3 separate regions of the Homo sapiens genome follow, and regions 1 and 2 are each linked to region 3. The links come from fine-mapping of genetic effects on gene expression. A gene starts in region 3. Each other region holds a variant in brackets. All regions are shown on one strand. Distances are from middle to middle. Region 1 overlaps FBXL13 (F-box and leucine rich repeat protein 13). Region 2 overlaps FAM185A (family with sequence similarity 185 member A). Region 3 holds the start of LRRC17 (leucine rich repeat containing 17).

Region 1 (11,032 bases), 51 kb before region 3:
TAAAAAGATTATACACAACAAAGGAAACAATAAACAAAGTGAAGAGACAACCTATAGAATGGGAGAAGACATGTGTGAACTAGTCATACAACAAAGGACTAACATCCAGAATATACAAGGAACTCAAACAACTCAATAGCAAATAAACAAATGATCTGATTAAAAAGTGAACAAAGGAACCAAGCAGACATTTCTCAAAAGAAGACATATGTGAGGGCGATGTGGCTGTGATATCTGTCACCCCATTGATCACCAGGGTTGATTCGGCTGATCTGGCTGGCTAGGCAGGTGTCCCCTTCTTCCCTCACCGTTCCATGTGTGTCCCTCCCCAAAGCTGCGTGCTGGGTCAAAGAGGATAGCCAACCCTGATAGAGGAGGATGGGTTATTGGTCTAGGATACAAGTAGCTGCACTCCCCTGCTTGAACCTCCAAACCTCTCAGGAAGACATACAAATAGTCAACAAATATATGAAAAATCATCATCAGGGAAACGTACATCAAAGCCACAATGAGATGTCATCTCACCCCAGTTAGAATGGCTATTATCAAAAAGACAAAAAATAACAATGCTGGTGAGGATGCAGAGAAAAGAGAACTCCTATACACTGTTGGTGAAAATATAAATTAATACAGCGATTATGGAAAACAGCATAGAAATTTCTCTAAAAACAGAACTATCATATGATCCAGCAATCTCACTAGTGGGTATTTACCCAAAGGAAAGGAACTCAGTATATCAAAGGGATACCTACACTCCCATGTTTACTACAGCACTACTCACAATAGCTAAGATATAGAATCAACCCAAATGTTCATCAACAGACAATTGAATAAAGAAAATGTAGTATATATACACAATGGCATACTATTCAGCCACAAAAAAGAATGAAATCCTGTCATTTGCAGCAACATGGATGAGCCTGGAGGACATGATGTTAAGCAAAATAAGATAAGCACAGAAAGATAAATACCACATGTCCTCACTCATGGGAGCTACGAAAAAGTAGAGTACAATTGTGGGAATTAGAGGATGGGAAGAGTGGCAGGGAGGGAGGATGGGGATTGGTTGGTTAACAATTACAAAATTATAGTTTAATAGGAGGAATGAGTTCAGGTATTCTGCAGCACTGTGGGGTGAATATGGTTAACCATAATTTATTGTATATTTTCAAGAAACTAGAAGAGAGGATCTTTAGTGCTCACAACACAAAGAAAATGATAAATATTTGAGGTGATGGATACTAACTACCATGATTAGATCATTACACATAAGGAAATAACACTCTGCATTCCACAAATATGTACAATTATTATGTGTCAACTAAAAATAAAAGAAAAAAGTGGAAACCCAAATGCCTATCAGTTGATGAAAGGATAAATAAAATGTTAGGTCCATACAATGGAATATTATTTGGTAATAAAAGTAGTACTGATGCATGCTACTATATGAACGAAACTTGAAAATATCATCCTAAGTAAAAGAAGACAGACCCAAAAGGCCACATATTGTTTGATTCCATTTGTATGAAGAGTCCAGAATAGGCAAATATATAAAAACAGAAAGTAGATTAGCAGTTGCCTAAAGCAGGCTCAGGGTGGGACAGGCATAAGGAGTGACTGCTAATGGGAAGGGCTTTTCTTTTGGGAGTGAAGAAAATGTTCTGGAATTAGATTCTAGTGGTAGTTCCACCACAAACAAACATACTAAAAACCACTGAATTGTATACTTTAAATTGGTGAGTTTTATGGTACATGAATTATGTCTCAATAAAAAATGTTTAAAAAAAGATTGATGTAATAATTGTATAAGTACATAAAACTCAGAAAATATTCCTACAGCATCCTTAAGTCCAAGATGAATACAGATGTTACCCACTTTTAATATATTTTTGTTAGCAACTTCAGACCCTGATGACAAAAATAGTAGCAAAACGGGGAGCAAGAGATGTCACCCTGCTCATGTGTTAGACAAGTAACTAGAAGCCCTTTCTGCTGTAAGTAAACACATCTTTGTAACTGAGCAGCAACAAATCGAGCCGGCAGAGATGAGGCCTCCACTAAAAATTGCCTCATGCTGGTTACAGGAGGCCAGTGAATTTCACTGCCTAATAAGTGAAACACACTATTTCAGGCAACAGGATTCACTTTTAATGTGGGTTTTTTTTTTCTCAGAAACTTTTTAGATTAGTGACCTAAAGAATGTCAGAGCCAGCAAGGTAAATATTCTGTTTGGCACTGTGAGGTTCATAAATGCTCCAAATTAGGAGGTGTTCTCTGAAACAAGTGACATTTACATTTTACAGATTTCTGATGCCAAGGTTTTAGCCCTGGGAGGGACAGGAAGAGTGGAGTGGGAAGAGTGGAGTGGGAAGACAGGCCAAAAATGAGGAGGCAAGAGGTAACAGCAAGATAGAGTGACTCGGTCTCAGTGGGGCAAAGGGCAGATTGATGCTTACCTTTCAGGAAAGCTGTGGCATCACTGCAATGGAAATCATCCTTGGTCTCCCTCATAAGTCAGCCAAACTCATGAATGCTTTTGCTGGAGAGAGGTTTTGCTTTTATTTTCCCAAAGCATAAAAAGGGACTACATTTTATGGTCAGCTGAAGTGCAGAGGAAAGCAGCTGGAGTGGTGGCCTGGGGAAGTCACCAGCATTGCAAGTTGCATGAGAATGTGAGGCACCAGAAATTCACAGGAATCCTGGGGAGCACTTTGCTCCTCCATTGCTAATGGAATTAAGGGGCCTGAATCTTAGGGGCCCAGGAGTCCTGAGTGGAAAAGTGGCTTCGTTATAGCTCCAGTATCACGTTCATTGAGGGGCATATCAGGACATAAGGCTCAAAAGGAAGCAAGCACCAAGTCACAAGAACCTCGTACATTATTCTAAGGAATCTGGACTTCATCCTATGCAACAGAATTAAATAGAACTTTCTCTCTCTGGGGAATATGAGTGGGTACATAAGTCACTATAATGAGGTTCCTTATGTACCAACTCATTCTCTACAGAAAGAATGAAGTATGTGTTTCAAGAGAGCTATAGGGACCACACAGCAGGGAATGAATGCTTCCAGTTGGAAGAAAGAGATGGCAGTCTAGAAAAGAGTTTCACAGAGGAAGGAGATTTTGAATCAAGCCTTAAAGATTAAGTATCATTTTGACAAGTGAAACAATGGGAACAGTGTTTCAGGCCGAAGAAATAGCATGGACAGAGACTTCATGTGCAAAGTGTGAGTTGTTGGGAAGTAGTTCAGTTTGGGGTCACTGGGAGTAGTGGGAGGGAAGATGGAACACTGCCAGGAACAGACACATGCACACAGACATTTGAGAGCAGACAAATCCTTGAACACTACACTTTCCCCACACTTTTTCATCTGGAATTGTTTAGCTGATGTACATAGACAATGTCAATGAACTAGTTACCAAATGTTGGAATGCTCTGTGTGTGTGTGTGTGTGGTGTGTACTTACTATACGGCTGAGTCATACTACATCTGGCTTAGACTATCACCAACATAAACAGAAAACATGCTTCCCCAACTCTCTATTTTGAAAATATTCAAATGTACGGAAAGGTTTAAAGAATGGTTATAAAGAATACTGACATACACTTCATATAAATTCACCAATTATAAACATTTGCCACATTTATTTAGTTGAGTGTGTATATGAACATACATATTTTATTCATATATATGTATGAATAAAATTTTATATACATATGCATAGTTTATATATAGTTATATATATATACACACACATATATATATACACACAAATATACATAAATTTCCCTGAACTACTTGAAAATAAGTTTCAGATATCATGATGCTTTATCCCTAAATATTTCATGTGCATCTCCTTAGGAATAACGACATTTTCCTATGTAACTATGTAGTATTATGCATATATAGTATAGACATATATAGTATTATGACACCCAAGAAAATGAACAGTAATACTGTAATATCTAGTACAAAGTCAACATTCAAATTTTTTTGTATCCAAGACCCAATTTGTGCATTGGATTTGGTTATCATGTCTTTTTAGTCTTTTTTTCTTTAAATTTTTCTTTTAAGACATTGACTTTTTTTAAGGGTCTAGGCCAGTTATTATGCAGAATGTCTCACATTCTGGATTTTTCTAATTGTTCCTTATGATTAGATTCAAGGTAAACTTTTTTTGCAAAAATACTCCTGAATTATTATAGCATCCCATTGGGAGGCACATATGTCCAGTTGTTCCACAACTGGTGATGCTGTTGGGCCACTTGGTTCAGAAGATGACTACCATAGATCTCTTTATTAGAAGAGGTATATTTACCCCTTTTTATTTAAAAAGTAATTTGTTGAGATGTTATAGTACACCCAGAATATTCTGCAAACATGAGAAGTGTTTGTTATAAAGAATATATAGTAACATACTTAGGTTCAAAAAGCAGTACACAAAATTATATCTGCAGGCCGGGCGCGGTGGCTCATGCCTGTAATCCCAGCACTTTGGGAGGCCAAGGCAGGTGGATCACCTGAGGTCAGGAGTTCACGACCAGCCTGGCCAGCATGGCAAAACCCCATCTCTACTAAAAATACAAAAATTATCCGGGCATGGTGGCAGGTGCTTGTAATCCCGGCTACTCGGGAGGATGAGGCAGGAGAATCGCTTTAACCCAGGAGGCAGAAGCTGTAGTGAGCCAAGATCGTGCCACTGCACTCCAGCCTGGATGACAGAGTGAGACTGTGTCTCCAAAAAAAAAAAAAAAATTCACATCTGCATATGTGTGTGTATAGTGTATGTATATGTGTATTAAAAGAAACAGACGTTTTGGGCAGGGCGCAGTGGCTCACGCCTGTAATCCCAGCACTTTTGGAGGCCAAGGCGGGTGGATCATGAGGTCAGGAGTTCGAGACCAGCCTGGTCAATGTGGTGAAACCCCGTCTCTACTAAGAATACAAAAATTAGCCAGGCGTGTAGTCCCCGCTACTCGGTAGGCTGAGGCAGAAGAATTGCTTGAACCCAGGAGGCGGAGGTTGCAGTGAGCTGAGATTGCACTACTGTACTCCAGTCTGGGCGACAGAGGGAGAATCTGTCTCAAAAAAAAAAAAAAAAAGAAAAGAAATGGACGTTTTGGAGGGTGCGCAATGATATGAATATGTTTTTTCATTATTCATATTTCTTTTTGTATTACTAGTGTTTGTGAAAATAGCATAATTTGGAGGAAAAACCCAATATGTGTCTGTTATTGAATATTTTTGTGTATCAACAAAGAATTATATAAAATATTTACACTAGGCTTTATTTCTTTATACAAAGCAACACAGTTCTGGTTAGTTTACTTTCTATTCTAAACAAACCATCAGCACAAATGTGCTAATATTCAAGCAAAGTACTCAGCTATGAATGTTAACATGTACAAGTATTATATACATAGATGAACAGTTTTACTTTACAAAAATTGATGGATACTGCTCTATCTTCATATTACTTGACCCAGCTTTGAAGC[C/T]TGACTCTGCTGACCATCCCCTGCTTTTTGAAATAGCATCTTCCTTGTTTCTCATGATATTACTCTGACCTCTGTCTCCACCTACTTCTCTGGATGTTCGTTTTCAGTTTCCTTTGTAGGTTCATCTTCCAAATCTATTCAATACATACTGATGTTCCCTGGAGCTTGGAACTTGACCTTCTCTTCTCTTTGTGACTCTCATCCATGGCTTTGACCACTTCAGCCATCTCTAGATCTAGCCCAGATCTCCCTCCTGAGATACAGATCTTGTTCTCTAACTGATAACTAGACATCTGAATGTGTCATAGGCACCTCTAACTCAGCACTGTTACTTTCAGAGAACTAGAATTCAAACTGGAAGCCATGAGATTTCATTGAGCTCTTCCTATTCTTTTTGCTAGCTTCAGTCAGGAGTCTGTGAAAGATGAATGCTCATGATGGACTTTCCTTTGATTTAAATACAATGGCTCCTTCCTCTGCATTTTGTACCTTTATGACCCTCTTTATAGGGCTCCAATTTCTCTATATGGGAAATCTATATAACCTAGGGTATTTGATATTTGAATTCAGGATATTGGAAAATGCACTCTATGAAATAAGATGGAATGGGGCACCCAGGACTCCAGGATGTAGTTACTGGGGGTATAGATCATGGGAAATCTAAAAAGTCCCCCGACAGTCAGTAAACATAAGAAGGCTTCTTTCATGCCTTTTTAATTTGTTTTTAAGGATAAAACAGAGTATAAGTTTTTGCTGTGATAGAGGGGATAAAATTGGGGGGGGGGATGGTACTGAAAATCCTTGTGTGAGTTTTCTTTCAGAAATGCTTGAATTTGAACACACTGAATTCCTATGATTCCAGATATCCTGAGGAAAACAAAGCAAAGTAAAACAAAACAAAAACAAAGATTCCAAAAGTCAGATGGATGTTTGTCTTCTCTGTCACCCAGAATCAAAGGGGCCCATAGTTTAGAGAGATGTGCTAGTACTAGTATTAAACATGTCCAAAATGGAATTCAGTATCTTGTCTCCAAGCCCTAATTGCTCTCCTAGGTTCTTTTCCTGGTTTGTGGCACCACCATGTTCACAACTGACCAAATAAAAAACCTGAGCATCGTCTATGTCTCCTCTCTGCCTCCCTGTTCCCCATATTCAGCCAATGAATAAGCCCTACCAATGCCACCCCCTAAATATCTCTCAAATCTGCCCCCTCTGCCGCCACTATCAAAACCTCATTATTTCTAGCTATCATTGCAATTGCTCATCCTTTCTTCAATAGATCATCCACACTGCCACCAGAGTTATGTTTCTTGTGCACAAATCTGTCCTGCTCTCCTACTCAGAGTTCTTCAATGGCTCCTACTGCATACTGCATGTAGCCTGAATTGCTGTGCAGGGCACTCAAGGCCACCCACATTCTGCCCTCCATCTCTTTCTCCAGCCTCATCTCCCTCCACATCCCCTCTCTTCTCTGGCCATGCTCTGACAGCACTGAGTTATCTGTGAATCCCAACACATAACCCTCCTTATGCCTCCAGGCCTTATCATCTGCTTCTTCCTCCAGCTTTCAGCTGCATCCCAAAAGCTAAAAAGCTTCCCTTGACTCCTCCACAGAGACAACAGAGACAAGTGTTCATTTTTTTTTTTAAGATGGAGTCTTCCTCTTGTCGCCCAGGCTGGAGTGCAATGGTGCAATTTCGGCTCACTGCAACCTCTGCCTCCTGGGTTCAAGCGATTTTCCTGCCTCAGCCTCCCAAATAGCTGTGATTACAGGCGCCCGCCACCATGCCCAGCTAATTTTTGTATTTTTAGTAGAGATGGGCTTTCACCATGCTGGCTAGGCTGGTCTCGAACTCCTGACCTCAGGTAATCCACCCTCCTTGACCTCCCAAAGTGCTGGGATTACAGGTGTGAGCCACCGCACCCAGCCAAGTGTTCATTTTCTAACTCATCTGTGCTGTTGTGGTGCAATGCCTCCATCTCCTTTTCAGCAAACAAATCTTATGTCAGAATTCAAATAAATAATCACTAAGATGCATATAGTGCTTGCCATGTGCCAGCTTACATGCATTGCCTTACTTAATCCTTATAACAACACTGTGAGGTAGGTAATATTATAATCACCATTTTAAAGAGAAGGAAATGGAGGCACAGAGAAATTGAGTAACTTGCCTGCGGTCTCAAAGTGCCATGGCACCAGCTGAGATATGAACCCATACTCTGAATTCATGCTTTTAGTAACTTTTAACTATACAGTGATGTTGCTTTTCTTGTTGTTATTTTGCCATTAGACTGTACCTTGAGACCAGTACTCTTTCAGTTTGGTACTCCCAGAACTTAACAATGTGTATGATATATAGTTGACAATGAGTAAATATTTGTTGAGTGAATCAGTCTACCTATAAAATTATCTATTTATACGGACTCAATTTTCTCTTATCTTGCTGGCATACTCTCAGAATTTTTGGATGAAATGCATTTCCGTTTGGAATTCTTTGAATCAGGGTTTACATTTCACATGCTTCTTTCTGAAAGATTTGCTCTGTTTGGTATTGCATACTGCATTCTTTCAGAAATAAAGAACAAAAGTTATACTTGGAAATATTTATTATCTCAATTAGCACATCCTCTTTCTAAATTCACTGATAATACTGTCATGTACAATGTTCTCGAAAATTTCTCTTCATCTCCCAAGCGATCTTCCCTTTTCTACTCTAGTTAGTAATTATGCTTTTATAAATATAATGTACCTTTTCTTCTCAATATTTTATTTACTTATTTTTGTGTTTTTTTTGTTTGATTGTTTGTTTTTGTTTTTGTTTGAGACGGAGTCTTGCTCTGTCACCAGGCTGGAGTGCAATGGCGTGATCTCAGTTCACTGCAACCTCTCCCTCCCAGATTCAAGCAATCCTCCTGCATCAGCCTCCCAAGTAGCTGGGACTACAGGCACGCGCCACCATACCTGGCTAATTTTTGTTTTTTTTTTTAGTAGAGACGGGGTTTCACCATGTTGGGCAGGATGGTCTCGATCTCTTGACCTCGTGATCCGCCTGCCTTGGCCTCCCAAAGTGCTGGGATTACAGGGGTGTGCCACTGTGCCCAGCCTATTTTATTTTACTTTTTAAGAGACAGTGTCTCGCTGTATCACCCAGGCTGATCTCAAACTGCTGGGCTCAAGGGATCCTCCAGCATCAGCTTCCTCGGTAGCTGGAACTACTAGTCTTCTCAATTATTTTTGTTTATTTCTACTTAATCAATTGTTAGTATGAATTTTGTAATCATATTTCTTTTTAAAATGTATCAACCTCTCTGACCTAATTTATTGACCTACAAGTCTAAAGGAAAGCAAGCTTTGATCACCACACAGACATAGATTCTGTATTGTGATGCTTATAGAAGGAAGGAAAATTGGCATCTCTGTTACCTGAAAGTAGACCAACTTGCCTTGAGACTGTTTGCCTCCTACTTGATGGAGGTAGAGAGGAGAGTCATGCTGCCAAAGATCCATCTTGAGGGAAGTGACAGGCTCAAGTTGGTCGCTTCTGTTTGCAGTGTTTTTAGTAGGCACTTTGCTAGAAACAGGAGACAATGGACCATAACCTCTGTGAGAAGGAACCACTATCACTAGCTTGATGGGACCAACATAGTCATGTAAGGCCACTGGCTGGAGAGAAGGGCCTGAGGAGGACTAGGAGAGGTCCAGCTCCATATGAAAAAAAACCAAAAGCCCATAACTGGGCAGACTTCTTGTTATGTGCTTTTTGAAAATCCACGGCAAATCCATTTGTCTCTGAACTACCGTGCTTCCTTTCAACTCTCATTCTTCCTATTTCTTGAATCCCAAGTGATTTCATGTGTTTCCTGCTTTAGAGGTTTTGCTTCACTGGACTCAGGCTTTATTTTTGTGTGTGTTCCATGCAGATGGGTGGTCTCTTGCAATTGTATCATCAGATTAAGACACGCAGCTGTAAGTGCTTCCACTCCAGCCCAGAGCATAGCTGAGACAATGTGGAATTTAAAGAAGACTTAAGTGTTTGGTTAAGAGGAAGGAAATGGTGCCAGATTCATTCATTCACTCACTGATCAAACATTTTATGTGCCTCCTATGAACATCTTGCTAGGCATCCCAAAGATGGGATGGTCCTGTCTCTGCTCTTGGGAAGCTTACAGTGCTATAGGGAGACAGGCATGGAACAGACACTAGAATATAACAAGCTGATTGCTTCAGTAGAGACATATACAAAGTGCAGTGGAAATACAAAGAAGGAGATCCTAAGCCTGCCCAGAAATTCTAGGAAAGCTTCCCCACAGCTGAAACTTAAGAGATAAGCAAGGCCAGGCATGACAGCTGACGCCTAACATCTCAACACTTTGGAAGGCCAAGGCAAGAGGATCACTTGAGCCCAGGAGTTTCAGCCCAGCCCAGGGAACATAGCAAGACCCCATCTCTACAAAAGAAAATTTGAAAAATCAGCCAGTCATGATGGTATGTGCCTGTAGTCCCAGCTACTTGGGAGGCTGAGGCAGGAGGATCACTTGAGCCCAGAAAGTTGAGGCTGCAGTGAGCTATGATGATGCCACTGCACTCTGGACTAAGTGACACAGAAAGACTCTGTATCCAAAAAAACCCAAACAAACAAACAAAAAAAAAGAAGAATTTACTAGGTGGACAAGTAGTGGAGAAGGTGTTTCAGACAGAGGGAATAACTTGTAGAGATGGGGAAACAAGAACACAGCATGTTTGAGGAGCTGTAGGAGAGTCAGTTCTGTGTGTCTGGAGCTGAGGATGAGAGGCGGGAGTCAGCTGGAAGCAGGGCTGCAGGGGTGGCCAAGGGCCGCCTCAGGAAGAGCTTGGTCCACCAGCCCATTGATACTGTAAGCAGTGTGGAGTCCCCAAGGAACTCTGAGCCAGGGAGTGATAGACTTAGACATATATATATATATATATATATATATATTTTTTTTTTTTTTTTTTTTTTTTTGAGACAGAGTCTTGCTGTGTCGCCCAGGCTGGAGTGCAGTGGCGCAATCTTGGCTCACTGCAAGCTCCGCCTCCCGGGTTCATGCCATTCTCCTGCCTCAGCCTCCTGTAGCTGGGACTACAGGTGCCTGCCACCATGCCTGGCTAATTTTTTTTGTATTTTTGGTAGAGACGGGGTTTCACCGTGTTAGCCAGGATGGTCTCGATCTCCTGATCTCATGATCTGCCCACCTCGGCCTCCCAAAGTGCTGGGATTACAGGCGTGAGCCACCGTGCCCGGCCAGATATTTTTTAAGTTTTGTTTTTTACTGACACAAAGTAATTGTGCTTATTTATGGGATACAGTGTGATGTTTCAACACATGTAGACATTGTGTAATGATCAAATCAGAGTAATTAGCATATCTATCACCTCATTGATCATTTCTTTGTGGTGAGCACATTTAGAATCCTTTCTTCTAGCTACTTTGAAATATACAATAATACATTATTGTTAACTATAGTCACCCTGCTGTGCAATAGAACACTAGAACTTATTCCTCCTATCTCACTGTAAC
Region 2 (10,525 bases), 150 kb before region 3:
GCTTAAGCTGGCCCACAAATACAGACCAGAGACAAAGCAAGAGAAGAAGCGGAGGCTGTTGGCCCAGGCAGAGTTGTGGGCAAAGGGGACCTCCCCATTAAGAGACCACCTGTCTTTCGAGCAGGAGTTAACACCATCACCACCTTTGTGGATAACAAGAAAGCTCCGCTGGTGGTGACTGCACACGACATGGATCCCATTGAGCTGACTGTTTTCCTGCCTGTCCTGTGTCATAAAATGGGAGCCACTTGCTGCATTATCAAGGGGAAGGCAAGACTGGGATGTCTAGTTCACAGGAAGACCTACACCACTGTCGACTTCACACAGGTTAACTCAGAAGACAAAGGAGCTTTGGCTAAGCTGATGGAAGCTATCGGGACCAATTACAATGCCAGATACGATGAGACCCACTGTCACTGGGACGGCAATGTCCTGGGTCCCAAGTCTGTGGCTCACATTGCCAAGCTCGAAAAGGCAAAGGCTAAAGAACTTGCCACTAAACTGGGTTAAATGTACACTGTTGTGTTTTCTGTACATAAAAATAATTAAAATAATTAAAAAATAAAAAAAAGTGCTTTGTGGATAGTCTTTTCAAAGGTTTATCACATATTTGATAAGGAGTATATTAAATATAATTTGACTTCAGACTCATGTCTCTGGGCATAACGTAGTTAACCATGCTATAGTACAGATTTTTTTTCTCTAAGAGACAGGGTCTTGATGTGTTGCCCACGCCGGAGTGCAGTAGCACGATCCTAGCTCACTGAATCCTCAAACATCTGGGCTCAAGTGATCCATATCTCTTTATGTAACAAAACTAAAGACGTATATAATGATTAAGGGAAAACATCTGGGCTCAAGTGATCCATATCTCTTTATGTAATAAAACTAAAGACATATATAATGATTAAGGGAAAATAAACTACTCTAAAAAAAAATCAGACTAGGCCGGGTGCAGTGGCTCATGCCTGTAATCCCAGCACTTTGGAAGGCTGAGGCGGGTGGATCACGAGGTCAAGAGATCGAGACTATCCTGGCCAACACGGTGAAACCCCATCTCTACTAAAAATACAAAAAATTAGCCTGGCGTGATGGCATACGCTTGTAGTCCCAGCTACGTGGGAGGCTGAGGCAGGAGAATCGCTTGAACCCAGGAGGTGGAGCTTGCAGTGAGCCGAGATCTCACCACTGCACTTCAGCCTGGGCGACAGAGCGAGACTCTGTCTAAAAACAAAAACAAAAAACAATAGACCAAACATCTAATGGCTCATATATAATATGAGTTTATTTCTTACTTGTGTCCAGGTGTATGGGTGGGTCTTTTTCATTCAGTGATTCTAGGTTCCTTCCGTCTTCCGGCTCTGCCATCTTTTAGAGCCTTGTTATATTCTGGACCCACTTGGTGGAATGAGAAGAGCACAGAGAAGGCACACTTGTTCTAAAAGCACCAACCTGGAAATGGCATATAGCATTTCCACTTACGTTATGTTGGTAACAACTTAACAACACCTAAGAGGTAAAGGAAGCTGGAAAATGTGGTCTTGCCATGGGTCAAGCTATACTGCTTTTACTTTGGAAAAAAATGGATTTTGATGAGCCAATAGTAGTGTTTGCCATAGTTCTCAAGTCCAAAATCAAGTCACTCACACACACACACATACACATACTTTTGTTTTCTGTCTTGCAGAATAGGCTAACTGGCTTGTGACTGCTGTTTTGTGCTCGGAGGCATTTTTACTTAGTTTCTGGGATGTGTTGTGCTAGAAGGTTTAAGTGGGCTGTTAACCTAATGTGTATTCTGTCCTTCAGACCGGTCCAGCGTTAAGAGTGTGGGCTTTGGAATCATACAGAACTTGATTCTAATTGTTACTTTAGATTTTGGGTTTTTTTCTGTGTCACCCTGATAAAGTGATTTACCTTTCTGAATCTTGGCATTCTTCCTCTGTAAAATGGGAAAAATGTAATACTTATCTCTCTGGTTTGTCGTGAGGATTAAATGATAGTTCATGTGAAGTAGCTAACATGGTATCTGGTGCAGAGAAAATGCCAAATAAGTGATAACTATTATTGTTATTAATGATGAATAGTAACTGATTATTATTGTCATCTTCATCACTGTGGATATTTAGTTAGCTGGTCACAGTGATTTTTGATTCCCAAGTCCTTCATCAGTGAAGCTACCAGAATACCCAAGTATCTCTTGTTTTTCCCTTAGAGTCCAAGTGGCTTATTTAATCCCTTTAACAGCAGTTGACATTTTTTTCCAGTTGATGTCATTATTCGAAGCAGTGAGTTTCTATTTCATTCCTTATTGTTCTTTTGTTGCTTTGTCAGTATTAATACAGAAATATTGAAAATGTTTCACTAGTATAAGTCACACTTACTCTCTTTTTCACTATATGTATTTTTAAATTTGTCTTTCAGGGTCAAAAATTGCATGTTCAAACAAAAGGAGGCAAAGTGATCTGTCTGGGAACAGTTTATGGAAATATAGATATTCATGCATCAGATAAAAGTGTAAGATTGAAACTTTCTTTTTTTTTTTAGTAATTGCAACTTTGCTTCCATTTGGCTCACCAAGTTGGTAGGTTCTACAAAGTTCGTAGCATAACATTCCCTTTTTAATGCATTTTAGTTCATAAGTAAATTCAAATTTGAAATTGAAGTGATGAAATAATATACAACTTAAGTTTTAGTTTGTGGTTTAATACTTTTGACAGTTACTTAGTTCCTAGTCTGGAATCAATAAAAACTTAAATGCTTACTATTTAACTCTAGTTCTGAAAAGATTTTTATTTTTATCATCATAGATTAAAATAGATGATTAAGTAATATCACCAGTAACTGGATTGGATTTTTCTTGTGTTAGGTTTATTTGAGTATTTTCTAAGACCTTTTTACTTCGCCCTTAGGCAAATTGAAGGATGTTTCAAAACTCAGCTTTCTTCAGTATTTTCCACAAGGTGGCACCATTAGATAGCTTTACTGCTCTCACAGCTTTTTTTTTTTTTTTTTTTTTTTTTTTTTTTTATAGTAGCTATTGGGATTTTTGTTGTTATAGGAAGATAGTTGGTATTTTTTAATCAACTCCTTTTGTAGCTTTTGGTTATTTAGCATAGTATTAAGAGTAAAGGTATAATTTTGGAATTATAAATTGTCATTTAAAAAATGTGATTGATAATGTATCTTTGAGAAAAAGTTTCCTTTTATTTTACACTTATACAATTTGCAAGAGCTTTTTTGTTTCTTATAAATTTGCTAAATTCCATAGTCAGCTTTATTTTCAGATAATTGGTGGGGAGGAGTTGCAAGCATATTTTGTATGTAGATTATTGTTGGCATAATTAAACAAGATAGACTATAACAGTAATTGTTTCTGTTGTTTTATCTTCCATCACCTTCCTACAAATTTGCTATATTCCATGGTCACTTTATTTTCAGAGTTGGTGGGGAGGAGTTGTGAGCACATTTTATATGTAGATTATTGTTGGCATAATTAAACAAGGTAGGTTATAACAGTAATTGTTTCTGTTGTTTTATCTTCCATCACCTTTCTCTTAGACCCCGTGGGAGGTTGTTTAAACCTAAACATTTAAAAATACTCTGTAAATTATACTAGGAAAGTGTTGAAAGACACTGTGTGGCCTTATGCTGCAGCTTTTTTGAGATGGCATTTAGTTTTACTTTTTAGATTGCTGTGGTCTTGGAGGTGCAAGAGGGAAATTAGACAAATTTACAGCCCCTTCAAACTCAGTAAATGATGGCTAATGTTATTGAAATAAGTTACTAGAATATTGTAACATTTGCATTCAAATATAAGTATCAAAGAATTTAATATCTTAATCATTTGCTACCTTGAATATCTTGGCCACTGTTTCCTCTCAGTTATTTATTTGTTCCAATGTTTATGGTTTATTGAATATTCATGTGTTTTACTTGCTATTATACAATTTTATTTCTTGATTGAGTTTTGTTATGTACTAAAGAATCAGTCTAGGGTTTTTTTCCTATTTTTATTACATATAGTATTGATTTTTAATGTATATTTCTAAGTTTGTAGTTTTTATAAAACATAAAATAAATACTTGTGAAATCTATTAACTTTTAATACACAACTTTCATAGAAATGTGATTTGGATATTTGAGAGACAAATATAGTGAATTAGTTAAGAGCACAGAATATATTCAGAGCCAAACTACCTGTGTTTGAATTCTGGCTCCACCATTCACTAAGCTCTATAACTGGACAAATTACTTAACCTCTGTGTGTCTCAATTTTTTGGAAAATTGGGTAATAGTAATAGAACAAACTAAAAAAATCCTCTATTAAGAGGATTAAATGAGTTAATACAGGTAAAATACTTAAAACAACGTCTGGCACATAGCTAAGTCTAATGTAATGCTTACCACGATGATGATGATAAAGGTAAAGGAATCACAGGAAAGATAACTTGGACGGGTTCTAGACCTACCAGTTAGCTTCCCAGAGACTCAGTTTCATTATTCAGCAAACAGGATGGTGATATTTGCTTTGTCCACTTAACAAGGTTGTGAGAATCAAATGAGCACTATAAATAATAGCATCATTATTCTACATGACTGTTTTTAAATTGTGTTAATTTCAGTATCTAAGTTTAGTTTTATAACTTAGCAGAGAACACAGAAACCCATTTCGTCTATTTGGTGAATTGATGACATAGTTGTCAGTTTTCCTCTCAGTCTGGGCTATGAAGCCACAGTACTTCCTTAAAACTTGGCTTTCATTATTTGTAAGAACTATATATATGTATTTACATATATATTCATAATAACTAAGTGAAAAATTTTTCTTTTCATGTAGAAAAGAAAATTTATAGCAATACCTCTGTCAGGAAGATACTGATTTTTAAATCTACTTTTTGTTCTGTCATTAAATAGTAAATTTAAATTCCTTCCATTTAGTTTGGTGGAAAGCTACTGCCTTATTAGATGTCAAGTGGAAAAGTTCTAGAAATAATAGTGTATTCACTAATTAATGTACTAAAAGAGAAAAATCATGATAAATCAATAGAATCAGATAAAGTATGTGCTAAAATTCAAAACCTATTCATGATTTAAATAGCAAAAGCAATCAAACAAAGTTGAAATAGAAGGGAATGTCCTTAATCTGATAAAAATTATTTTAAAAATATCTATAGCAAACATCATGCTTAATGGTGAAATGTTGTAAACTTTTCTTTTGAGAACAGGAATAAGACAAGGATGCCTGCTGTCCCATTGCTTCTGCTAGCTGCTATTCACTGTTGAATTGCGGGCCTGAGACAGATGGTTAAGGCAAGAAAAAGAAAGAAAAAGCAGGAAAAAAAGTATTAATATAAGGATTGGAAGGGAGGAAATGAAGCCATCACTTGTAGACAGTATAATAACACATATATAATTTTTAAAAGTACAGATAAATTATTAGGATTAGTGACTTTAGTGAAGTTGTTGGATTAAGATCAAATACAAAGTCAATTAGGATAAAATGAAATTTTAAAAGATACCTTGTACAATAGCACTTAAAAATATCTAAAAGGAATAAATCTAATAAAAGATTAAGAATTTTATATAGGACATATAAAACATTAAGAGAAATTAAAGGAGACCTAAGTCAATGGGGGAATGTATTGGATCTGTTCCATATTCTGCAGAGAATGCACTATTGCTCAGAATCTCGTAATTAGAGGTAGGGAATCAGAGTCAATAAAGTGATTGTGTACTAGGTAGTAACATTTTATGTAGTTATCCACTGATTCCACAGGTAGCATTTTGGCTTTTTACCAGTCTTTGTTTTATAATGAACTGATTAGTCTTTCTCTTACTAGGCTGTGACCATAGATAAACTGCAGGGAAGTTCTGTTACTGTATCTACCGAAGATGGTTTGCTGAAAGCCAAGTATCTTTATACAGAATCATCATTTCTGTCTTCTGCTGCTGGGGATATTACATTAGGAAGTGTTCATGGTAAGCTGACAAAGGCATAATACATCTGAGACTTTCCACATAGCATAAATTTTAAGAGATGACTCTGTAGTTGAAAAAAGGATCAGGAAACTGGCCTTTTAAATAATGAAATGCAGACTAACCATCTTTTTAAAAAAAAAAACCATAAAAATAAAATGACTCATAAAGCTAATTTAATTTTATTTGTGCAAGAGATTAAAGATTATGCTGTTATATATGGAACTAATAGTAAGTCTAATTTTTAATGCATTTCTTTTTTCTTTTTTTTTTGAGACAGAGTCTTGCTCTGTTGCCTAGGCTGGAGTGCAGTGGCGTGACACTGGCTCACTGCACCCTCCACCTTTCACGTTCAGGTGATTCTCCCACCCCAACCTCCCGAGAAGCTGGGACTACAGGTGTGCGCTATCACGCTAGGCTAATTTTTGTATTTTTAGTGGAGATGGGGTTTCGCCATGTTGCCCAGGCTGATCTCAAACTCCTGGGCCCAAGCGACCCACCCCCTTGGCCTCCCAAAGTGCTAGGATTACAGGTGTGAGCCACACTGCATCCAGCCTGTGTTTTCTTATAATAGGAAACAAATAGCAAGGAAATACATGCAGGAGATGAAGTAAAAGCAGTGTTAGGTAAAGATGGGTACTGAATGATTGCTTTTATGTTAACATAAGAAAGCTGAGGGTTAAATTAATGAAACATTTGGTGGAAGGTAATTATAGCAACTCTGATACTAACTTTATTTTAAATGTTTTGCGTGTATTTGTACTGGCACCAGGTTTTCTCAGCACCCTGTTGTTTCCATTTTCTTTGATAAATATCCTCT[T/C]GTGGTTTCTAAATCCTGTCTCTGCAAGAAATATTACATAGTTAATGTTTGCATTATTGAAAGAAAATAAGAGTATAATGATGAGGTAATATGGCAAAGGGCATGCTGGTGTTCAGTGTCACTCAGCTGCTTCTTGAATTTCCACAGAGCAGATGATTCAAATCCAGGTATGTTTTCTGAAATATATACAGATAGAATTAATAATCACTAATCCAGTATAAAACATCTGCTAAATGCCTTTTGAGCCATATTCCAGGAAGTACAGATTCGGACTTTTTCCATATATAGTCCACTCATTTCACCTCTATAGTAAAGCTGGATATTGGTATCTGTACACTCTGGCAAAACTCTCAGATTTTAGTTGTGAGCAAGAGTTATAGAGTGGCATTAGAAAGCATGGTTAGTGCTAATCATGCTATGTAGTAATTTGGCAAGTAGTCTTCTAAAAAAAAATTTTAAAAAGCATACTTATATGCTTGAAATAGTTCTGGAGCCTCAATTTAATGGTTAAACCTCAAGCATTCTTGCAAGGTTAAAGTATTATTTGAGCCCAAAATAGCTTAAGTACATATGGAGCTGTACCCAGATGAAGCAAATGGTTTTGTTACTTATTCATTTATTTATTTTTTATTCAGTTGTACCTTAAGTAGATCTGGTAGTTTGTAACTCTTCATAATTTAAAAGTGACTTTTATATAAGCATTGCATTTCTAACTATCTTAATCATAATGAAAAATACTGTGCTTAATGTATTTAGTAGCTTTTAGTGGAGAAACAATTCCTTATCAAGTCAGATGTGGATTAACATCCACAGGAAAAGCAGTCTGTTCTCTGCAATGCTTTATACCATGTTTACACTAAATTCATAATGTTTCTTTTTTGCATTCTTTTAAGTTAGATAAATTGAATTTGGTACAGTTTATCATTAATTGCCTAGATGGTAGTAAAACAGGTGGTCTTTTTTGAAGCAGTCCTCAAAGTACTTAGGTCTGTTGATTACTTAAAGTAGCTAAAATGGAAATACATTGCTGGAAAAGAAAGTTAATTCCTTAGCCTTAATAAAACCTTTTTATATTTACTGACCTTTAATATGAAATCAGATACCTTTCCTTAGCTGGTTTAAATCTAGGTCCTCTTTTGGACTATTGTTTCAGGTTGAATTTCCCTGAAAGCAGACACTCTGAAATGGAAATTTGAGCACAGCGAATTTACTAGGGAGGCCTCTTGGGACCAATGCCATGTAAAGGAAGAAAGCCAGATTTCCATGGGAGAAGTTGGACTGTGATACAGTTTCAGTAACCCACACGGAGAGCTCTGAAGCTGGGATGGTCCCTCAGAGTTGTCTCAAGCTGGGGTGAGAGGAGCTGGACGTTTATATCCCCAATCATTAGATGCAAGCTGCCCCAGGAAGGAGTATGATCTTGGGCCGAAGTGACTCCTTTTTGCTAGGTAATTCCCAAAGACGGCTGACAGCTGAGGGCTGTCTGCCAGCAGTACTCCAATAGCTAGGAAAATAAGCCCTTCAGTTATGATGTGGGATCTGGATGAGGAATATAGCATCTACTACAGTTATATTTATTCATTCATTTGACACATTTATTGACCACCTACTGTGTGCCAGATTTCCAGGCACCAAGGGTGCAAAGTTGGGCAGGAGGTGAAACCTGTCGTTAAAGAATTCAGAGTAGAGTAGAAGGATTAAATATACTTTCTTATTTTCTCAGTTACTACCATCCCCTTTGGGATGTTACTTCCCACCTCATTTCCAGTGGTCCATTATCACCCTGCCTCAATGCAAAGAACTCTTTTAGATGTTTCTCACAGCTTCTTTGTGTAATACTAGTACAGCAATGAGAAGGAGAAGGGGAAGGGAAAATTTAATCCAGTTTCAAATTATAGTTACTTTCACAGAAGTAACTGTAGAAAAGCTTCCATGTTCAGCCTTGCTTTCTCCACCTAGTCCTTGTTCCTCACTCTGCTTTGGTTTTTCAGCATATACAAGAGAGAACTAAGACAGGAAACCCCTCTTAATTCCATGGACACACCCCAGTGCCTCGACTTTTAAAAAATCACCCTTCAGACACTTCTAAGTTTCTTGCCTTCCTCTCCCCTATCACCTCTATTTCCATCCTTGTCCTAAGGGATTGTATGAACATGCTTTTGGAGTTTGTAGTCTGGGGTTTGGGATGGGAGGGGTACAGGAGAGCGGGCAGTGTTTAGTCTCACATCCTGGTGGGTGAGAAGATTAGAGTCATGGCTGGTGAAAGTAAGTCCCAGTTTTCTAGTTCCTGGAATTTTGGTGGGAATTATTTCTCCCAAGATCTTCCCAACCTAGAACTCTGGATATATATTTCAATGAATTCTTTGTGCTAAATGCTGATGGTTATATAACACAAATTAGGTATATATTTTGGCTATATTTAAATAAACTGGCTTGAGAATCTTAAAACTTGTTTTTATGGGAAAATACATTGCTATTTCTAAACATTTGACTTACAGAAAACAAACTGAGAATATATGCGTTCTTGGTCAGGATTTATTTACTTTAGCTTCTTTTTTCTTAAGCAAGGCTTAAACTAATTTTTTTCCAGAGAGAGCAGAAAAAAAAAATCCAACATATAGATGTTGTAAAAACCATTTATACACAAATATAATGCAGTAACTTTCTTTTTGGTGGATTTTACAAGTAGAGTTTGGAGCCTTTGTGCCAGTAGGTGGGTGGGTGGGTGGTTGAAAGCAAACATGTATTGAGTACCTAAATTGGCCAGCCCCTTTTACTTAATGAACAATTGGCTGTTCACAGATGAGGAAAACTAGACTTAGAAATGTCTAATTGTTTACTCTCAACTCCACAAGTTAATTAGTGGAATAGCAAGGATTTGATCCTAGTTTCTTGGCTTTCTAGGAGAGGTTTTTAAACAGTGAACTTGATTGCAACCGCAAATTCCATCATCACTTTGAGGGCTTCCTGGCTCACTGTAAAGATGTTTCCTCCAAGAAGACAGTACTATAACACAGATGCACTGCTTCAGCTATGTTCTACATTATAAGTTCCTTGAGTTTCAGGACATTTATCGTGCTTTATGACTGAAAATGTAGATGTTCCATACAGTGTTTGGGCTTAGCTCCATGGTAGCATTCAGGAACTGGACTCCTTCCATAAAAGTGATGGTGCTGTCTTAAGTGTGTGGCTTCTAAGTCTTCCATGAAAGGAAACAAGAGCATGAAATTTATTTTTTGTCTGCATTTTCAATATTTTTATATACCCTGATGGCAAAGCAACATCTAACATACTAGTGCCGAGTACTTAGAGCATGCCCATTAATGAGGAAAAGAGTAATGAAAGGAGCAATATATCTTTCCTGGCCTTGCAAGTTGATTCCTATGTATAGAGAAGAAAATAATTTATCCTAAGTGTTTTTTCAAGTGAAATTTTTAAGTATAGCTAACTATATTTTATATGTAAGAAACTGAGTAAGCTAATTGACTAGTCATATTTCCTATTTGTATAGTTGGTTGAATCACATCTGTTAAGTGTGTATGCCTTCTACTACAAAAGAAACCAGTTTATTCATTGACTTATTAAATATTCACTTTCTGACGATGGGAATCTAGTGGGAGAATAGGTACTTGAATAGGTTGTGTTTAGATGTAAAATTTTATGAGTTTACTATCTTGATTTCCTTCTAAATAATCAAAAATTAAATTTGGTTTTATATGAATAATA
Region 3 (11,032 bases):
CCCAGTAATGCTGTGGTTCTCGCACACTTGTCAAGGTACCACCCTGTTGGTCTGGGACAAGATCTGGAAGAATTCTTTGGATTACCAGGCAGAGGCTCTTGTTCTCTTCCCTTCTGTTTCCCAAACAGAGTCTCTCTGTTCTGAACCACCCAAAACTGGTGGTAGAGTGAAACAAGCACCCCTGTGGCCTCCACCACTATGATTGCACTGGGTCAGACCTGTAGCTATCACAGCACTGGGTCTTGCCCAAGGCCTGCTGTAACCACTTCCTGGCTACTGCCATTGTTCACTCAAGGCCCTGGGGCTCTACAATCAGCAGGTGGCAAGGCCAGCCAGGCCTGTGTCCTCCTCTTCAGGGTGGTGAGGTCCCCCAGACCCCAGGTGAGTCCTTAGGTGCCCTCTGGGAATCAGGGATTAGAGTCAAAAACCTTAGAAGTCTACTTGGTGTTCTATTGCACTGCGGCTGAGCTGGCATGCAAACTATAGGATGCAGTCCTTCCCACTCTTCTGCCCCTTTCCAAAGGCAGAGGAACCTTACCCTGTAGCCACCGCCACCCCAGGCCATGAGTAGTATTGCCAGGCTACCAATGATGTTCTCTTATGGCCCAAGGGCTTTTAAGTCAGCTTGTGGTGAATGCTGCCTCACCTGGGACTCATCCTTCAGGGCAGTGGGTTCCCCTCTGGCCCAAGGCAGGTCCAGAATTGCCATACAAGAGTCAAGTCCTGGAATCGCGGACCCCAAGAACCTGCCTCGGTGCTCTACCCTCCTGTGGCCGTGCTGGTATCTAAGGTGTAAGACTGTCCCCACTGCTTTTCCCTCGCAAGCAAGAGTTTTGCCCCATAGCTACCCTAGCTGGTAATATGCTGAGTCTCACCTGAAGCCTGCAAGTCACAGAGGCTCACCCAAGGCCCTCAATGTAGTAGCTGGGTATTGCTGCTAGTTATTCAGGGCCCAAGGGCTCTTCAGTTAACAGGTGATGAATGTTGCCAGGACTGGGTCCCTTCCTTCAAGGCAGCAGGTTCCCTTCTGGCCCAGAGTGTGTCTAGAAATGTAACTTGGGAGCTAGAACCTGGAACGAGGGCCTTATGACTCTAACTGGTGCCCTATCCTGCCGTGGCTGAGCTGGTATCCAAGATGCAAGACAAAGTCCTCCCTACTCGTCCTTCTCCTCTCCTCAAGGGAAAGGAAGGGGTCTCTTTTGGATCGATGAGCTGTGAGGCTTGGGGCTGGTTGAGGGGCAATGCCAGTACTCCCTTGGCTGCTCCAGCTGGTGTCTCAGTATGTCATGTACCCCTCAGTCCACTGTCTCTGTGCCTAGTTGAGCACTAGGATTTGCCTAAGGGTTACAGTCCTTATGGCCTAGACTGCCTTTCAAGTTTACCTGGAGGCACAGCGCACTGTAGCCCTCAGTGGTGAGGTTTGTAGAACTCAAGTTCTGACTGCTGGGACTGGCAATTCCCCTGTGTCTAGGCCTGGGTTAAATGCTCCCTCCGTGGGTGGGCATCAGCTGAGTTTGGTCCAGTTTTCCTCTCTGATCCAACAGGACAGCACTAAGTTCAATGCCTCACAATTGGTGTATTTTCCCTTCCCCAGCACCCAGAGAGGCTCTCTGCACCATGTTGGAGGGGTGGCACTGGCGATTCAGGACTATTGTTTCTATCTCTTCAATGACTCTTTCAGTCATATGAAGTTAAAACCAGGTACGATGACTGCTCATCTGATTTTTGGTTCTTATGAAGGTGTTTTTTCTTTTTCTTTCTTTTTTTTTTCTTTGTGTGTTGGGGGGAGGGGGTCTTTATTCACATGGAGTGCTGTATGCGATGCCTGGGAAAAGCTCTCAGCCTGGTGTGTGCTTCAGCGTGGCTCGGGCTCCAATCTCTGTTTTCCAGTTTGTCACGGGCTCTCAACTGTAAATAGCCTATGCCCTGCTGGATGCCACCTTCTTAGACACCACGTGAATCCCCATGCACTGCTCCTCTTACCCCTTACCACCACCAAGCAGCTATTAGACACCTGAGGTCTCTGTCCTGTTAGTACCATGGGGCAGAAAGGTATGATACCTTTTTTCACCCATAAGGGTGACAGCCAACACTCCTAACAAAATACAGGCGTGCAAGAGAAAAGCATTAACAAATTTACTTAATTATTTGAGGCAAGGTCTCACTCTGTCTCCCAGGCTGGAACGCAGTGGTGGGATCACAGCTCGCTGCAGCCTCAATCTCCCAAACTCAGTCAATCCTCCCACCTCAGCCTCCCAGGCAGCTGGGACCAGAGGCATGCACCACCATGCCTGGCCAATTTTTTGCATTTCTGGTAGAGACGTGGGTCCCACCATGTTGCCTAGGCTGGTCTTGAACTCCTGGCCTCAAGTAATCCTTCTGCCTCAGCCTCCCAAAATGCCAGGACTACAGGCATGAGCCACCGCGCCCAGCCTAAAAGCATACAAAGGTGTTTTTTCTCTGTAGATAGTTGTTAACTTGGTGTCCTTGGGTGGGGAACAATGGGTGGAGCCTTCTGTTCCACCATCTTGCTTCACCTCCTCCAATTATGTGTGTTTTGTATGCATATCTGGGCAGTAGGTCATAGATTTGAAGCCTCTCATTTCAACTTTACTGTGTCTGAGAATATTTATCCTTAGGACACTTGTGTATACATTTGTGTGTTGTTGCTACAATAATTGCCTCATGGTAACTGAGAAATTGATAAGAAGAAGGAGGTAAGTCATACCATGAGGAGGGTTTAAGCACAACGGCGAGTTAGAAAAGTACTGAAGGATTTATAGTTAAGGGGCAGGCTTATCAGTGGGATATGTCAAGCACATTAAGTTGTTCCTGAGTTTGCAAATATTTTTCTCTGTGATTGGGCCATTGGCATTTGCTAATTGGTGCCCATCAAAGTTAGGCTTCTACCCACCCACAGGAACTGAGAGATATCTTCTTTGATGATTATATATCAAAGGGATAGATCCCAGGTCCTTGAGGAAGACTTTCCTGAGTTGTAAAACTGTCAAGAAGCTTTTGTTAAAAAGACATCTCAAAGTAGGCAGAGAAAGAACTTATAATTCCAAGTTTTCTAAAACAAATGCTCTAAGAAACAAGAAAACAAGAAGTCAGGGCCTAGAGTCAGTAAGAAGCTGGTCTAAAATTCAGTCATGCTGAGGAGAACGTCAATGCCATCTCAGTCATAAAGTTATGGTAGATGTTGATGTTTAAAAAGCTACACATCAGCAGATCAGTTTTAAACAAATATGAATGTTAGATGTTTACAGCCCTAACTTAGAATCCTCCCCTCCTTGCCCCAACTCCCTCCAGACCACCCAGGGCATCAGGATACCACAAGATGTCAGTGGAGGTGACTAGGTAAGAATTCTATCCATTCAAGAACCCTGGGGGAGAAACCCATGCTGCCCCTGTATTTCCCACTATCCCAGGGAACTCTGCCTGCCCCAGTATCTAGCAACAGATGCTTAAAACTGTACTAGTACCATGTGCTTTCATCAGCTGTGCAAACTTGGGCAACTTATTCAACCACCCTGAGCCTTGGTCTCTTCATTTGTAAATAAGCATAGTAAATACATACCACCACAGCACTGTATCAGAAGTAAATCTGATCTGTGTATAGCACTCAACACAATGCTTGGCATATGGTAATGACTCAAGAAATGATAACTATCAATATTTCAGCCAGTTCTCACCTATGCTATTATTCTCATAGAATAATGAACATACTATGACACCAAATTAATAAAATACACAGAGAGGCAGAAGAAAATAAGTTAAAAGAATTATGGCTTAAATCTTTTGAAATTAAAGCAGAAGAAACTATCAATGAGGCAGTAGCTACATCCAAAGCGCCATGCCCTATCCTCTGCAACTTGATCCAATTTTCTGCCCAACTTTCCAAGTCCTGTTCCCTCAAACTTAAAATATTTTCCCACGCAGATCTCAAATCTTCATGTTATTCAGCCCAACGGTGTAATGCAATTTTTTAAATTATGAGTTTTTGTTGTATTTTCTTTTCCTATTTATCACTTATAGCATTTTACCCCCCCCCCCCCAAAAAAAAACCCATGTGGGAGTTAATTGACTTTTCAGGAATCCCATGCAAAATTCTCCCTCAAAACATTCTCTTTGTTTGTGTCTTGGTAGCAACTCCAGAGTTTTCAGGACTTGGACTCTGCTTTAGACTTGTGCTCAGACTGTCTCCACAAAAGTGGTCCGTTTCCTCATCCAATGAGCTCTGCCTGTTTGTCTGTGTGACACTCCAGTGGAAGGAAGCCAAGAGCCTATAATAGCGATCCTGGGGAAAATTTCAGCAGCTGGGGCCATGTAATTTAAAACCTCTGAAAAGTGTGCTGCGGTCCGTGCACAGCATTAGTATAACGTGAGGGCTGAATGCAGCCCATTCTCTGGAGAACTTCCTCACACACCGCAGCAAAGAGAAGACTGAAAGACAAACCTGGGTGCAGCCAGAGAGGTCCAGATAGATGAGCTTGTGGCATCCATTCCCCAAGTTCAGGTACTGTAAGCCTTTGTCTGTGAACCGTCTGCAATAAGCCAAACTAAGATTCTGTAAGTTGTGGAAGTGCCTGAAAAGACAAAAGAGAGGAAGGAAAGTATTATACTTCCGTTGTTCTCTCAAATCTTTCTTAAGCCACTATGACAAAGAAAACTGTAAATTCAACTCTTCTTCTTGCAGATGTTCAACATTTAACTTTACTGTTAACTCTCTACCTGTTAATTAAAGGAGACTACAGTGTTATATAAGGTAACACACAATACATTTAATACCTTGTAATACATTTCAAGTGAAAGTATTAATAGTTCAATAATATTTGCCTAGATATTTAAGAAAGTTGACTGGGATAAAGCTTTTTTGGTGTGTGTGAGGTGGGGGAGGCAATCATATTGTTTGGAAGTGAAACCAAATTTGCAGAGTGTATTGTTGCTTTTAGGTTTTATCTCTGGAGTACCAAAATAATGTGCAAAATATATAAAAGGACAAATCCTTTGTAAACATTTAAATGGAGACTGTTACAGGAGAGTGAGGATTTGGGACAGAAGGCAAAACTGAATATGACCATGCTCTTAAAATAGATCTGATAAGCAAATGAGTTTAAAAAATAGGTTTAAATATGCATGAGTTTGTGACAGTTTCATTATTATAGTTAAAGAAAGACTAATTGATATGCAGAGTTTAAGCATGGATTAAGAAGACCAGTTTGCAAATAAGCAGGCAACACATGAGAAGAATCAAAAGCAACATCAGAGACTATAAATCTCGCTGGAGTTGAAACAGATTAAATATGGTATTACCACAATGACCAAAATGACAGCTTCCAGAAAAAAGTAGGGTAGTTAGGATGAGCCTGTACTACCATACGAGGGCTCGCAGTTTGAGGACACTCCGTGGACAATTTCCCAAGCCCTCCAAAGCCTGGAACTTTTTTTTGAGACGAAGTTTCGCTCTTGTTGCCCAGCTGGAGTACAATGGTGAGATCTTGGCTCACTGCAACCTCCTCCCCACTCCCCCAACCCCTGGTTCAAGCGATTCTCCTGCCTCAGCCTCCCAAGTGGCTGGGATTACAGGCGCGTGCCAACATGTCCAGCTAATTTTTGTATTTTTAGTAGAGACAGGGTTTCACCATGTTGGCCAGGCTGGCCTCGAACTCCTGACCTCAGGTGATCCACCCGCCTTGGCCTCCCAAAGTGCTCGGAACAGGCATGAGCCACCGTGCCCAGAAAGCCTGGCACTTTTTAAGAGGTCAAGGATTCCCACTACTATCTGCTCTTCTAATGGAATTAGCAATCATGCTCTTAGTTTGTGATATGCAACAGCTTAATAGCAAATTAGAAAGCAAAAAGAATGAAAAGTGAGGAGAAAATGCTTCTCTGCCTCTCAAAATCACACAGGTGAATAAAGTTTACCTCCCATAAATGGGAAATAAGATATACAAGCACTGACCATTAATCAGATTTTGAAAAACACATCTATATGATATAATGATTTGCATGCCATAGCGAATTACTTGATTCAGAACACACATCCCGATCTGGGAAGGGCTGTGTACGTGAGATTCGACAGAGCGAGGGGGAAGGCTTTGGACTCACCAGTGACTAGGTGGGCAGGGCCTGAAGGAGAAAGCAGTGCTAATATCCCAAAGACACGCCCCCTCTCTTGGGGCTGTCGAGTGGACTGAGCTGTGCTAAAGTTTTGGAAATGCGTTATCTTCCTCTCCCTGGGGTACACCCTGTGATTCAACTGAGTACAATTTTCTTGGGGTGGGGAGAGGCACACCAGGGTGTCATTTCTAGCAATCCTTTAGCTTTATAATCTGTAGAAAGGAGTTGTGAGGCAGGCCGCGTGACACAGTGCAAAATACACAAGGTTTTTGAATCCGGCCAAATGAGATGTAAATCCAAGCCCTGACACTTACTGCAACCTCCCTAATCTCTCAGAGATTGTTTTCTCATTTGTTAAGTGGAGATTAAAATATTTTTTTTTTTTTTTTTTTTACACTGATCAACTGTGGGGCCTCCAGCTTTCCTGAACCTCAGTTTTCTCATCTGGAACATGGATGTAATCTGGTCTGCTTGTTCCCTTTAAAGATGTGACAATTAAATGAGAATACAGAAGTAACAGTATTATCTTGAGGGTGATTTTAACAATCAAAATCGGCAGGGACATAGTAGAAGATTTAAAACTATATGTAATATTATTGCTACTACTATGTGAAATGATAGTAACACATTAACTATTTTTATGGACTTTGTATTATTCTTCCATTTAATGAAATGGATACTTATCTCCAAGAGTGGTGCATACAATAATTCCAAGAGTTTGAAGGATTTCACATTGAATGTATACCTCGATCTACACCTAGTATTCAATTTCTTTAAATCCATGTGATCAGTTAACAAATATCAAAAATGAGAACTGAGCTAGGAGTGCTTAACTTTTTTTAATGTCACAGACACCTTTGGCTTTTGGCAGTCAGCTGAGGTCTCTGGCCCCTTTCTTGGCATAAAGTTTTTAAATGCATAAAATAAAATATATAAGATTACAAAAACAGCCAATTATATTGAAATACATAATTACCAAATAAAAAAACATTTATGAGTAGAATAGTAATATATGTGCTTCTTTATTAACATATTAAGTAAGATTTTGTGGCAGTTCTAATAACTGCTGTGATTGTGAACTATCAGTGATATTTTGAAATACTTATAACAATTGAAATGTGATAAGAATATATTTGTGATTTATATGAGTAAAAATGTCCCAGAGACTGCTAATACTTCTGTAGTTTTTACCTACATTTCAATTACAGTTAATAAAAGTAGAGATGAGTTTCTTCTTTTTTTTTTTTTGTTTGAGACGGAGTCTCACTCTGTTACCCAGGCTGGAGTGCAATGGCATGATCTCGGCTCACTGCAACCTCCACCTCCCAGGCTCAAGTGATTCTCCTGCCTCAGCTTCCCAAGTAGCTGGGATTACAGGCACCCACCACGACGCCTGGCTAATTTTTTTTGTATTTTTATTAGAGACAGGGTTTTACCATGTTGGCCAGACTGGTCTCAAACTCTTGACCTCAGGTGATCCGCCCACCTCGGCCTCCCAAAGTGCTGGGATTATAGGCATTAACCAGTGCAACTAGCCGAGATGAGTTTTTTATATCCCCCATTAAAATTCATGGAGCTCCTGAATTCTATCCCTGATCCTCTTGGGGGAATCCACTGCTCCCCAGCTAAGAACCTCTGGTTTAGATAAAAGAGGCTGTTCATTAGACTAAGTGACTCCTGGATTGAAAATCTCTGGATAGCTCTTTTCACAGTGGAACCTCATGGAACCATCAGTTTGAAGGCAAAGCTCAGGAATCTTGGGTGGCCCTGTAGGCCTTTCTAGGGATTTACAGTTCTGCAGACTTAAAGCTGCTAGGGACGGGAAAAGTGTCAGTTGACAGCAAAATCACAGGTGGCAAATTTTGTGCAATACTCATACTCTTTATTCTGAATTTTGGCAAAGACGCGTGTCCCCTACATGAGTAAGATCTGATTCATCATTTTCCCAGCCCAGAGAACACTTGGTAATTCTAATTCTGCTTTGAGGCAATGTTTACAGCTTGTTTTTATCTTTTTCTAATTATTTGATAACTGTTTCTTATGGGGGGGGGTGTGAGTCCTCTCTTTGTGATTTATTTATTTATTTTTCTGCTACCACTATAATCTTTAGAGAAATTACAATTCTTATAGAAACTACAAAGATTTTTTTTTCTCCTTTCTTTTGGGTTTTTTTCCATTAAAGAATTGAAGTCATTTGTGTTAAATTTCTAACACCTGAAGGACTTACTACTAAGATGAATGGAAAAGTATGTATTTAAATAAAAAATTCTCTGAAAAAAATCACCAAGACAAGGCCTACTCTGTAAAAGAGGGAATTTGCATGTGGATTCTTTTGAGTTGAGTGTTGGGCTCTCTGGTTTCACAGAGGCATTTCAAGTAATAGAATTCTGCAGAAAACCTAAATGGAGTGATCTGGCCTTCTATTTACAGGGTAGACCTTGAAGTTGTCCAGTCAAGACAACAGCTTACTTTGTCTGCCCCACTTTGATAGGCACTGGTGAGACTATAGATCATGATAGTTCCTGATAATAAGAAATTTCCAAGCCAATTGAAAGGTCAATTCATCTATATAAAAAACAATTGGATACTACTCCACTATAGCATTTAAGACTCAATTAAAGAGCAAAGATCATAATAGCTTTACTCAGCACTGTATGCCCAGAACACCTTGCACATACTAGTTGATCAATACATGGTGAACAAGTGAAAGAAGGTTGTTATTATAATTCAGGAAAAGGAAAAATCACTGCAGACTTCTGGTAGATGGCGAGACTTAAGGTGTGAAGGCTGTAGATTAGCCATGAGAAGGAGAAAGGCACTGCAGCTATAGAGAATGTGAAGCATGCAGCAATCAGATGACTGGAGTTAAGGGCTTCTCTTGGGAAACCTAGGCAGAGAAGTTTGGTTGGAGAATGTCAACGAAGAGTAAGGGAAGAACCTAGACCTTAAGCATGTCAAAGACATGATAGGAAGATTGTTCCAGGATGACACTTCTTGTAGCGTGAGATAGAACAGATTGAAGGGAGGAGAGACCAGAGGCAGCACCACCAGGATACTGTGCCAAATGAGGTGCTGAGAGTGCCACCTAGGTTGTGACAATAGGAATAAATAGAAAGTGTTTAGTTCCGGAAACATTTAGAGGCAACAAATTTCCTGGAATGGGCATGAGCTTTAGGCAGCCCTCATTTTCAACTTTAGAAAACTGAACAAGTCCCCAAAGAAGTGAGAAAAAATATTCAAATAAAAAGCTGGCAAATCATTGTTGCCAAGGACAAACAAATTACATTTTTCTCTTGGCAAGTACTTTTTTTGGAAAGAAATACTAAAAGCAATGAAGAGAGAATGACAGCAGAAACAACCAACATTTCTCTGCTTATTTACAGTTTCGAGAACATTTTTGCATACCCAAGCATATTTGAAACAATGGAAAATAGAGCAAAAACAGAGAATCATTATGAAATGTATTTTTATCATAGATAACTTAGTATACTTTTTTATATGGCAAAAAAATCAGTATCAAGTAGTATCTATTCTGAATATTCTCTCAATGGCAAGAACTAGAAGGAAGAGCCAAACAAAATTCTTATTTTGGGTCCTACTTTTCTATCTATTGCCTACTAAAGGTATAACTTCATTTGTAAAATAAATGTCCCTAAGAAGATATGCATAGCTGTCATATTACCTTCAATTTCTAAGGAGAAAAAAAGCCATTTCAATGTATGATTGAAAATAAATATGTTTTAAGTTAAAAAATAATTTGTAATGTGATATAAACTACACCCTGGGTCACACAGAGTGGATCATGCCTATAACCCCAGCACTTTGGGAAGCTGAAGCAAGAGGATTGCCTGAGGCCATGAGTTTGAGACCAGCCTGGGGAACATAGTGAGATCTTGTCTCTACAAAAGATTTTTCAAATTTAGCTGGATGTGCCCAGGAGTTTGAGGCTGCAGTGAGCTATCATCACACTATGTAGCTGGGTGTAGCCTGGGTGAAAGAGCAAGGCCCTGTCTATAAACAAAACAAAACAAAAAAATGGCTCCCAAATCATCTACTTTGTAAGTTCAGATTTTCACCAATGATTTATGGATTTTATAATACTCTTTTTCTATGTTTATGTACATACATACATGTACATATATTCATATATATACACATACACACATATACACACACACTTATATATCATAGTACAGAATGCCTAAAGAAAGAACTGAGTGGTATTCAATATTACAGGACTGGAGGATCTTAAGTAATTCCTGAAACAGTGTTAGAGAAACCTCAGGGACCTCCCACAGTGGTCACTGGAGCCAGCTTGCACAGCTCATGGGAGTTGATTGTTAGCATCTCTTCCCAACTCCACATTCAATGACATTGTGTTGATAGCTTAAAATCGGCCACAGTGGAATTATTTACACCACAGAAATCAGTAAACACTAGGAATTGGTGCTTCTCCTCACCCTTGCCACCAGCCAGTTGTTAAGCATTTACCAGAACACTGCTGTTCCTAAAATATATTCCAAGAATTACTGCTACAGAGAAGGCAGTATGCTAATGAAAAGGCATATAGAAATAAAAATGATGAAAGAGACAACTTTGAAGGACAGGAATAAAATCGGATCTAAAAATAAAAGGAGATTCTTATGATAAACTCTAAACAAATGCATTGAAGCATTAAGAATAAAAATGCCTTCCCTAGCTGAGAAAAAATATATTTTAGTGTTCAAAAGGTTTAAAATGTACCAGGAAAAATTAATTGAAGGAACACAATTAAGCTTGGAAATGTCTTTAATTTCTCAGAGAAAAGGAAAGTCTTGCAAGCATCTCTTAGCAGGAAAAAATAGGTTACCAACAAAGGAACAAAAAATCATGCTAGCTTCAGACTTTCTATAACCTGAAATATCAAAGT

The links. PIP is the estimated chance that this variant, and not a neighbour inherited with it, causes the effect.
Region 1: its variant is fine-mapped to the expression of LRRC17 in whole blood (TOPMed, PIP 0.99).
Region 2: its variant is fine-mapped to the expression of LRRC17 in nasal epithelium (TOPMed, PIP above 0.99).

The regions. Positions count from the first base shown.
Region 1 is chr7:102,857,244-102,868,275 of GRCh38, forward strand. The region is part of intron 17 of FBXL13 (F-box and leucine rich repeat protein 13); the gene reads right to left. It also overlaps the pseudogene RN7SKP198. Among named protein-coding and RNA genes, the nearest start is that of LRRC17, 50 kb to the right of the region's middle. The variant C/T (reference allele first, on the strand shown) is at 5,496.
Region 2 is chr7:102,755,430-102,765,954 of GRCh38, forward strand. It overlaps FAM185A (family with sequence similarity 185 member A), which reads left to right. Exons shown (of 8, transcript NM_001145268.2): 3 at 2,425-2,517; 4 at 5,844-5,982. It also overlaps the pseudogene RPL7AP39. Among named protein-coding and RNA genes, the nearest start is that of FAM185A, 12 kb to the left of the region's middle. The variant T/C (reference allele first, on the strand shown) is at 6,800.
Region 3 is chr7:102,908,627-102,919,658 of GRCh38, forward strand. It overlaps LRRC17 (leucine rich repeat containing 17), which reads left to right and starts at 4,374. Exons shown (of 4, transcript NM_001031692.3): 1 at 4,374-4,519. It overlaps FBXL13 (F-box and leucine rich repeat protein 13), which reads right to left. Exons shown (of 21, transcript NM_001394494.2): 12 at 4,460-4,589.